2 linked regions of the Homo sapiens genome follow. The protein of the gene in region 1 purifies or fractionates together with the protein of each later gene. This does not show direct contact. Each region holds a gene or a part of one and is shown on either strand. Other genes may lie near its edges.

Region 1 (4,568 bases):
GCCGAGGCTGAGGCGGGCGGCTCTGCCATCCTAAGCCGGAAGGTGCGGTTTCGAGGTTCCCAGGGCCAGCGGAGGCTGGACCTCGGCCTTCCCGGGATGGTGGCCGGTGGCTCAGGGAAGTCCCATTCGAAATAGTTGAAAATAGCCGAAGTCGTTGCTCATTTTATGATTAACAGTATCCTCTGAGGCCTCCCGCCCACCCTCACCGCGGCTCCATCTCCAGATTCTTCCCCAGCCACTCCTGGCTGCTTCCTCCTCAGGTGCCGCCACCTTACGGAGCTGAACTCGGTCACCTGACGCTTCAGCAAGCAGGGGCTTGTCCTGAAGCTGGGGCCGCGGGCGGCAGGGTGCTCAGAGCCAGTTCATCCTGCCCTAGGATGCCACCTTGGTCCTCAGCAGTCACAGGACCACTGGGTCTGAAGAACTTCCCCATGGCACGGACCTGCGGCAGCTCAGAGAAGGTCTCCACTGCCAGCAGCATGGCCAAGAGTCCTAGAAGCAAGTAACCTGGGGAGGAGAAGGTGCTGGGGCAGCGCCTGGGTTCTGGTGATGCTCCCCGCCCACCTCCCAGCGCAGTGACTTGCCCTGGCAACTGGCACCACTCACCCCCTTCTCAACGCTGCCACCAGAGCTCTTCGACTACCCCTCCCACGCCGTGCCCTGGAGTGAGGTCCCTCCACCTGCAAGGCCCAGCCCCCCAGTGATTTATGGGAGTCCTAGTCCAGGCTCCTCTTCCCCCTTCCCCCACACGCTGTTAGGTGGCTGGACTTACCAAGAAGTGCGAGCTGGCCCAGGTGGTAAATCACGGGGTGCAGGCTGCGGCCGCGGCCGGGCAGCAAGTCCTCCAGGCCAATGGTGCTGAGCGAGCTGAAGCAGAAGTAGACGGCCCCCAGCAGGCTGCAGTCGCCCTGAAGGCCCCACAGCACCAGCGCTGGCAGCAGCACAAAGCTGCTGGCCACCAGCAGTCCCAGTGCAACTGCCTGCAGCAGCGCAGCCCTGGCCGGTGACAGCTGCCAGTGGACCGCTACCCAGGCACGTGGGCGGCTGAGCACAGGCAGCAGGCAATGGCGCAGGGTGGCCACGAGAGCTAAGGAGGCTGGCAGCCCCAGGGCTGCATAGACCATGCAGAAGGCCTTTCCGCCTGGCGATAGTGGGGCCATGTGGCCATAACCTGGAGAAGAGAGAGTCAGTGGACAGTGAGAGCTCTGAGTGCCATGTCTGCTGGGGTCCCTGCCTACCCCAATACTGCCTTCCGCAGAAGGCTGCCCTCTGGTGGCCTTGAACTGGCCAGGCCCAGGTTCTAGCTGGCTCTGCTCCTCTTCGTCAGGGGATCCCTTACCCTCTCTAGGCCATTCTTTTCTTTTTTGGAAAATGAAAGGATGAAAGAAGACAGTTCCTCAGGCCTTTTGTAGCTGGGACAATTCTGAGAACTGCGCTGCCCTTAACAGATACTCCCGATTCCACAGCTGGTGGAATATCATCCACTCTTTCCCCAAATGTGTGTCATGTCCTGTGTGCCAGGCTTTGTACTGGGATCTGAATCAGCCCAGGCCCTGCCCCTTCTGGTGGGGGAGTCGGGCAGGCAAATCATGAAGGGCTGCAAAGAGGCAGCATGGGCGAGAGAGGGCATGTGCCAGGCGGGGAGGGGTGGGAGTGCGGGGTGTGCTGGGAGAACAGGATCAGCTAATACAGAGCTGCAAACGCACATGCCTACCGGAGCCAGATGGGAGACAAACAGGAGTGGTGGGGACAGGGGTACACTGGAAAGTGTGAGCTGTATCCAAAGGGCAGGCCCCATTCTGCTCCAGTCAGGATGTTGCCTTGCAGGGATTCTGGCTCAGTGTGAGTGGGTTTCCTGATTTTCCAAAAGAAGTTGGAAATATGAGCTGGGCACAGTGGCTCACACCTGTAATCCCAACACTTTGGGAGGCTGAGGCAGGTGGATCACTTGAGGTCAGGAGTTTGAGAACAGCCTGGCCAACATGGCAAAACCCCGTCTCTACTAAAAACACAAAAATTAGCCGGGCATGGTGGTGCATGCCTGTAGTCCCAGCTACTCAGGAGGCTGAGGCAGGAGAATTGCTAGAACCCGGGAGGTGGAGGTTGCAGTGAGCCAAGATCGCACCACCGCACCCCAGCCTGGGTGACAGGGTCAGACACCGTTTCAAAAAAAAAAAAAGTTGGAAATACAAATTCCAATTCAAAAAATACTGAGACACTTTGTGGGGCAAAAAATACGAAAACCCAGGGCTGTGGGTCTCATTGCTGCTTTTCCCTGGGCCTGTGCCCACGCGATTTCTCTGCAGGACTCCCTCATCCCTGTCTGTGCCCTCCTGATCCACAAGCATCTCATGCCGACTTCCTCCCCTATCTTCCCTCACTCCCCCACCCGAGGCCATGGTCCTGATCTGTCCTTCCCAGGTTCATTCTATTTGCTTCCATCCAAGAATCCATCCCACTGTATTGTATCCCCTATCTGGCCACAGGCTGTGGCATCTGGGCAGCTCTCCTGGGTCTCAAAGGGTGCCTGGGGTGGGACTGGGGAGGCCACACCCTTCCTGGCAGTTGAAGTGGAGGCACCAGTTGGGGTGTGTTGGTGGGGAGCCCCAGCTGTGATGTCAGGCCTCACAGGGCCTGGGCTCCATCTGGCTCTTTGGGGCTGAAGGAAGGGCTGCATGAACCCCAAAGCCCCCAGGGAGCCATGGCCTCTTGGAGCCGCACCCCCCGACTTGGCTGCCTGGCTCTCTTACCTGTGGTGGTGAGGATGCTGGCAGCGAAGAGCAGGGCTGAGGGAAGGTCCCAGGTCCTGCCCTCTGAGCTGTTGCCCAGGGTGGAGACCCCATGGGCCTGGGTGGCCAGGGCAGTGCCCAGCAGCTCTTCCAGAGCTCCGGGTGGCAGGCAGGCCCTATGCTCTGCCTGGAAGGCTGCCAGCTCTGCCCTGAGCTCAGCCTGAAGCCTGCATGCAGGAGGCCCCTCCAGGGCCTGGAACACCACAGCCCCAAGCCCCAGGGCCAGCAAGTGGGCCACAACCAGGAGCCCGTATCGGGACCAGGGCCTTAGACCCCCCATGGCAGGCCGCTGGGGTGCTGTGGGAACTGGCGGCTCCACCTCAGGCACCTGGGAGGGGCTGGGCAGGGCGGGGCCAGGAGGAGGTGCTGTGTGGGTGGCTGGGACCCGGCTGGGATGGCTGGGGTGGCTGGGGTGTGAACAGGAGGGAGGTGAGCTGCATCACCCTTCCCAGGTCCTGGAGGCAAGACATTTGCCCATTTCACAGCAGCTGGGATGGTGGGGATGGGTGGAGGAAGGCGGCTGCGGTGAGGGGAGGAGGCGGAGGAAGCTGAAGCCTAGAGAGGACCTCACACTTATTCAAGGTCCTGCTCACTCAGGCACCCATACCACATTCATTCATTCATTCATTCATTCAAGTGCTTAGGGAAGAGGACAGGCACAGGTCCTTTCCTTCCTGGTGTTTACACAAGAAACCTCTTAGCAAAGAAACATGGCAACCTCACATTGTCATGAGTTCCATGAAGGAAACACCCTGGGTGATGGGAGAGCTCTGCGGGGAGCGGGGGGGTTATCTCACTGGGAAAGCTCTGCTAAGGAGGTGATATTTCAGCTGGGGAGTAAGAGGCCAGTGAAGGTAGGAATGAGCTTGGGGTGTGAGAGGAACAGAGGGCTGGCTGTGGCAGGGGAGAGTTGGGGGTGAAGGGGGGATAAGGACACAGGCCCTTGAGGATAAATGTGGTCCAGGGAGACCTACGCTGGGCTACTGTAGGCGTCATGGATGGAGTGATTTTGGCCTGGGTGGTGTGGTGGGAGAGGAATGGTGGCAGCTGGGAAGGATCAGGTGGGGGTGGGAGGTGGGGAGAGGACTCCAGGGTGCCCAGAGCACCCGGGCAGATGATACCCTTGCGCCCGATTGCCAGTTCTTCCTGAGAACGCTTTGTGCCTGCCCTCCTGACTCCCTGCCCCTGAACTGCAGACACAGAGTCTGGGCTGCCATGGGGCACCTGGGAGAGGGGAAGGGGGAGCCTGGGTTCCAACTCCTCTAACGTCAGAGGGGCTGAGGACAGAGGCCAAGGAAGGGACCCAGCCCTAGGGTATGGTGTGGGAGTGCCAGAGCCCCCATGGCAGTGTGAAGAGAATGGACAGAGGCCGAGGGAGGGACCCTGCCCTAGGGTATGGTGTGGGAGTGCCAGAGCCCCCATGGCAGTGTGAAGAGAACTGTCAGGGGTGCCAGATGCCATGGCAAGTCACCATACTGGGAGGTGGGTGGAACTTACTACTCTTTTTTTTGAGATGGAGTCTCGCTCTGTCGCCCAGGCTGGAGTGCAGTGGTGCAATCTCGGCTCACTCAACCTTCGCCGCCCGGGTTCAAGCTATTCTCCTGCCTCAGCCTCCCAAGTAGCTGGGGCTACAGGCACCTGCCACCACGCCTGGTTAATTTTTGTATATATATATATTTTTTTCAGTAGAGACGGGGTTTCACCATATTGGCCAGGCTGGTCTCAAAATCCTGACCTTGTGATCTGTCCGTCTCGGCCTCCCAAAGTGCTGGGATTACA
Region 2 (3,809 bases), on another chromosome or scaffold:
TATCCAACTGATTAATTAGCATTTACACTAGAATATTGTACAGGCAACTCAAACTCAGCATGTTTAAATCTGTCCTCAAAATCGTACCCCTCACCCCCGGCTTTTTCAGTACTTTATCTCTGGTTCACCGAATGATACCAATGCCCTGGTTGTGGAAACTGGAGACTCGAGTCCTGTAGGGAACCTGCCTCTCACTCTTCTATATCTAGTCACCACATCTTGCCTCTTTGACCTTCTCAACGTCACTGCCAGCACTCCGGTTCAAGCCTCTGTCATCTCCAGCCCAGTACCTTGGTTACAGATCTCTCCGTAACTGTTCATGCTCCCTTCTAATTTTTCTTCGTATTGCAGTCTTGGTGATCTTTGAAAAATCCCAAGCTAATTGTGTTCCTCTCCTACTTAAAACCCTTTAATGGTTTCCCATTGCTCTTAGGACAAAGACCAGAACCCTTGACCCTGGACAACAAGACCCTGTGTGTGGCTGTTCTCCATCTCTCTATAGGGTCACCTTGTGGTGTGCTTTTCTTTGCTCATTGCACTGCAGCCTCACAGATTCTTCAGTTGGTTGTATTCCTTCCTCTTAGAGGGCTTTTGCATATGTGGTTCACTTGTCTAGGAGGCTCTTTGCTTTGCTCCCTGGCTTTTGGCTGGTTGCTTTAAGTTTCAGTCTGAAAGTCACTTCCTTGGAAAAGCCTTTTCTGATCCCTTCAAACTAGGCCATGTCTCCTCATTAAACTCTCATAGCCTTATGTGTTTTCCCTGTGAGCACTTAAAGCAGTAAACACGTAATTTTACAGTTAATATTAATGTCTAGACTAGGTGGCGGCAAACTACAGCCCATGGGCCAAATCTGACCTGCTACCTGTTTTTTATGGCTTACGAGCTAAGAATGGTCTTTACGTTTTTAAGTGGTTGAAACAAATCAAAAGAATATGATTTCATGAGAAATTTATTTAATAAATTATGAAATTTTAATTTCATTCACAAGGTTTTATTGGGACACAGTCATATTAATTCATTTACTTGTCTATAGCTGCTTTCATATGACAGTGTCAGAGTTGAGTAGTTGTGACAGAGGCCTTATGGCCTGCAAGCATAAATATTTACTCTGTGTCCCTTTACAGAAAATGTTTGCTGACCCTTGCTCTAGGCTGAGTTGATGAAGAGAGGGGCCGTGTTTGCTTTGTTTATTGCCATCTTGGTGCTTAGCTGGTACCAATACATGGTAGGTACTCATGAAATATTTGAATGAATTAACAGATATTCTGTTTCCCTCCATGGATAGAGGTGATTGAACTCCTACCTTAGAACACTGGGGTTTTAAAATTCATTATAAGAATTTTAAAACGATTCTTCTTTGGAAGACTCTTAACAGCATGTTCAGGGCTCTCTTAAGCAGCTTGTCTGTTGAAGGTATACATGTCACGTATGGAGCAAGTATACTTATAAAGGTGTAAGTTACTGGGTCAAGGTGGACAGGAAAGGGCTAGTGCGCTCAAGTAATGGACCAGTCAGATTTACAGTGGTGATGTTTTTATAGCAGGCACAAATGGGTGAGACTTTATGGCAAGCGTTGTAAAGAAAACGTGTTTGAGCTGGTGAAAAATTTAAGTCATTAAAGAGTTAGACATTGTTATCTCTGCTGTGGGAATTCACTCTGTGAAGATGGTTAAAGTTTTTGACACAGTAATATTTCCTCCTTTTTGATACTTTTTGTTTTCTAATTTATTTGGAATATAGCATAGCATAATGTTCCAATTTTGAATTTATGCATTGTGTAAAATTTAGTAATTTTTTTGGCAATTTAAAAAACAGATTTACATTTTTCAGTATGTTTTATTATACTCAATAGAGGGATGCCAGTTTTTCCCCTCTGGGGGACTCCTTTGTAATTGTATAATATGATAATGTTGTATAATAGGATTCATTTAACAAACATTTGGTTGATAAACCCCTGGAATTTATTTTTTTGTGAAAATATTATTATTCCTTTTAGTTACTCTCTACAATATCCCACAACCAGATATTTAGACTTATTTAGTAGGAAAACCCTTAAAAGCAACTTTTATTCAAATTTTTAAGGTTGCCAGAAATGCTGAAAATTATTAAATGGAAGTGTTTGACTTCTGGATATGTTTATAATATGTAAAGTAAAAAAACCAGCAGGAAGATGGAAAAATTGGAAACATGATTACTTCAAGATATTTAAGTAGCAGGGAAGGTATTAAAGTTTGTTTGTTTTTGTAGATTTGTGATAATATAATCATGATTATGATCTCAGAAAATTCTTCATTTTGAACTACTTATGATGTTACAGCTATAAGAAATAAAAAAGGCTGGGTTTGGTGGCTCACACGTATAATCCCAACACTTTGGGAGGCTGAGGCAGGAGGATTACTTGAAGCCAGGAGTTCTAGACCATCCTGGGCAATATAGTGAGACCCATCTCTACAAAAAATAGCAAAACAAATTAGCCAGGTATGGTGTCGTGTGCTTTTGGTCTCAGCTACTCAGGAGGCTGAGGTGGGAGGAAGATCTCTTGAGTCTGGGAGGTTGAGGCTGCATTGAGCTATGATCGTGCCTGTATTCCGGCCTGGGTGGCAGAGCCAGACCCTGTCTTTATTTTTTTTTGAGACAGAGTCTCGCTCTGTTGCCCAGGCTGGAGTGCAGTGACACAATCTCAGCTCACTGCAATCTCCGCCTCCCGGGTTTAAGCGATTCTCCTGCCTCAGCCTCCAAGTAGCTTGGACTACAGGTACCCGCCACCACACCTGGCTAATTTTATGTATTTTTAGTAGAGATGAGGTTTCTATGTTGGCCAGGCTGGTCTCGAACTCCTGACCTTGTGATCTGCCTGCCTCGGCCTCCCAAAGTGCTGGGATTATAGGCGTGAGCCACTGTGCCTGGCTGAGACCCTGTCTTAAACAAAGAAACAAACAAATAATAATAATAAAAAAAACCCTTAAATCCAAATAGCTAAAACATTAAGGAAAATTGATTATCTCCTATAGGTCAAGGGGTAGGGTAGCTTTCAGGTTGGTTAGTTCAGTGGCTTGATGTCAGCAAGGACGTAAGTTCTCTCCTTGTTTCTTTTTTGTCATTTTACGGAAGGTAGCTTTTTCTTAATTAGCTCCCCTCAAGATCCCAAGATGGCTATGGCTCTTCTTACCGTCTTTTGCTGAGCTGACAATCTCCAGTGGTTTTCCTTTCATGGGAATTAGAGAGGGCTGCACACTTATCCCTAAACAAGCTCTAACAAGAGGAAGGCAAAGGACTCTGCAATTGATTTAGAGTAACCAGGACTTCCCTCTGAGTCAAGTGAGGGGCAGGGCAACACCGGAACAAAAGGAGGACTTTGCCAGCAAGGTGGCGGCAGGGATGCAGGATTGGGCGTGGTGACTGGGTAGGCAGCCAATACTATCTGCTATGGTTTTGCCATTTTCTTTTGTCTTTAAATCAGACTTCTATAGTGTTTCCTAACATTTTACTTATAGCCCCATTATGAACTTCACAGTTCGTAGTTCAAAGTCACACAGTTAGTTATCTTCTTGTCCTAGTGATGCTGCTCAAGCCATTGCTGAAACCCCTGTCTTTCTTTTTTGCTCACCCCCACTGCATCTTTCCCATTCTGAGCTAAGGACAGCTTCAGATGAAGAAGAGCATTTGAGGTTGGAATAATGGTTAAGTGGTGAGTTAGTATTCTTGCAGGCCATGGTCCTTCAAGAGCACCTTGGCTGTTAGTATAACCTCTTCTCTCTCTAGCTTACAATCTCCTTTTCTACCTCTTTTGAAGTCTCACTTCTGTCTGT

What was found.
Region 2: the proteins of KCNK7 (region 1) and SLC44A1 purify together in Homo sapiens (affinity purification with mass spectrometry; one large-scale study listed by BioGRID and IntAct). This does not show direct contact.

Annotation. Positions count from the first base shown.
Region 1 is NC_000011.10:65,592,704-65,597,271, forward strand, and holds KCNK7 (potassium channel subfamily K member 7), read right to left. Parts: upstream 3,098-4,568; 5' UTR 3,070-3,097; coding exon 2,751-3,069; intron 1,172-2,750; coding exon 773-1,171; coding exon of another isoform or gene 717-772; exon of another isoform or gene 681-716; coding exon of another isoform or gene 640-680; exon of another isoform or gene 508-639; coding exon 302-507; 3' UTR 133-301; downstream 1-132. UniProt on the Homo sapiens protein: Probable potassium channel subunit. No channel activity observed in vitro as protein remains in the endoplasmic reticulum. May need to associate with an as yet unknown partner in order to reach the plasma membrane.
Region 2 is NC_000009.12:105,251,112-105,254,920, forward strand, and holds part of SLC44A1 (choline transporter-like protein 1), read left to right. Parts: intron 1-3,809.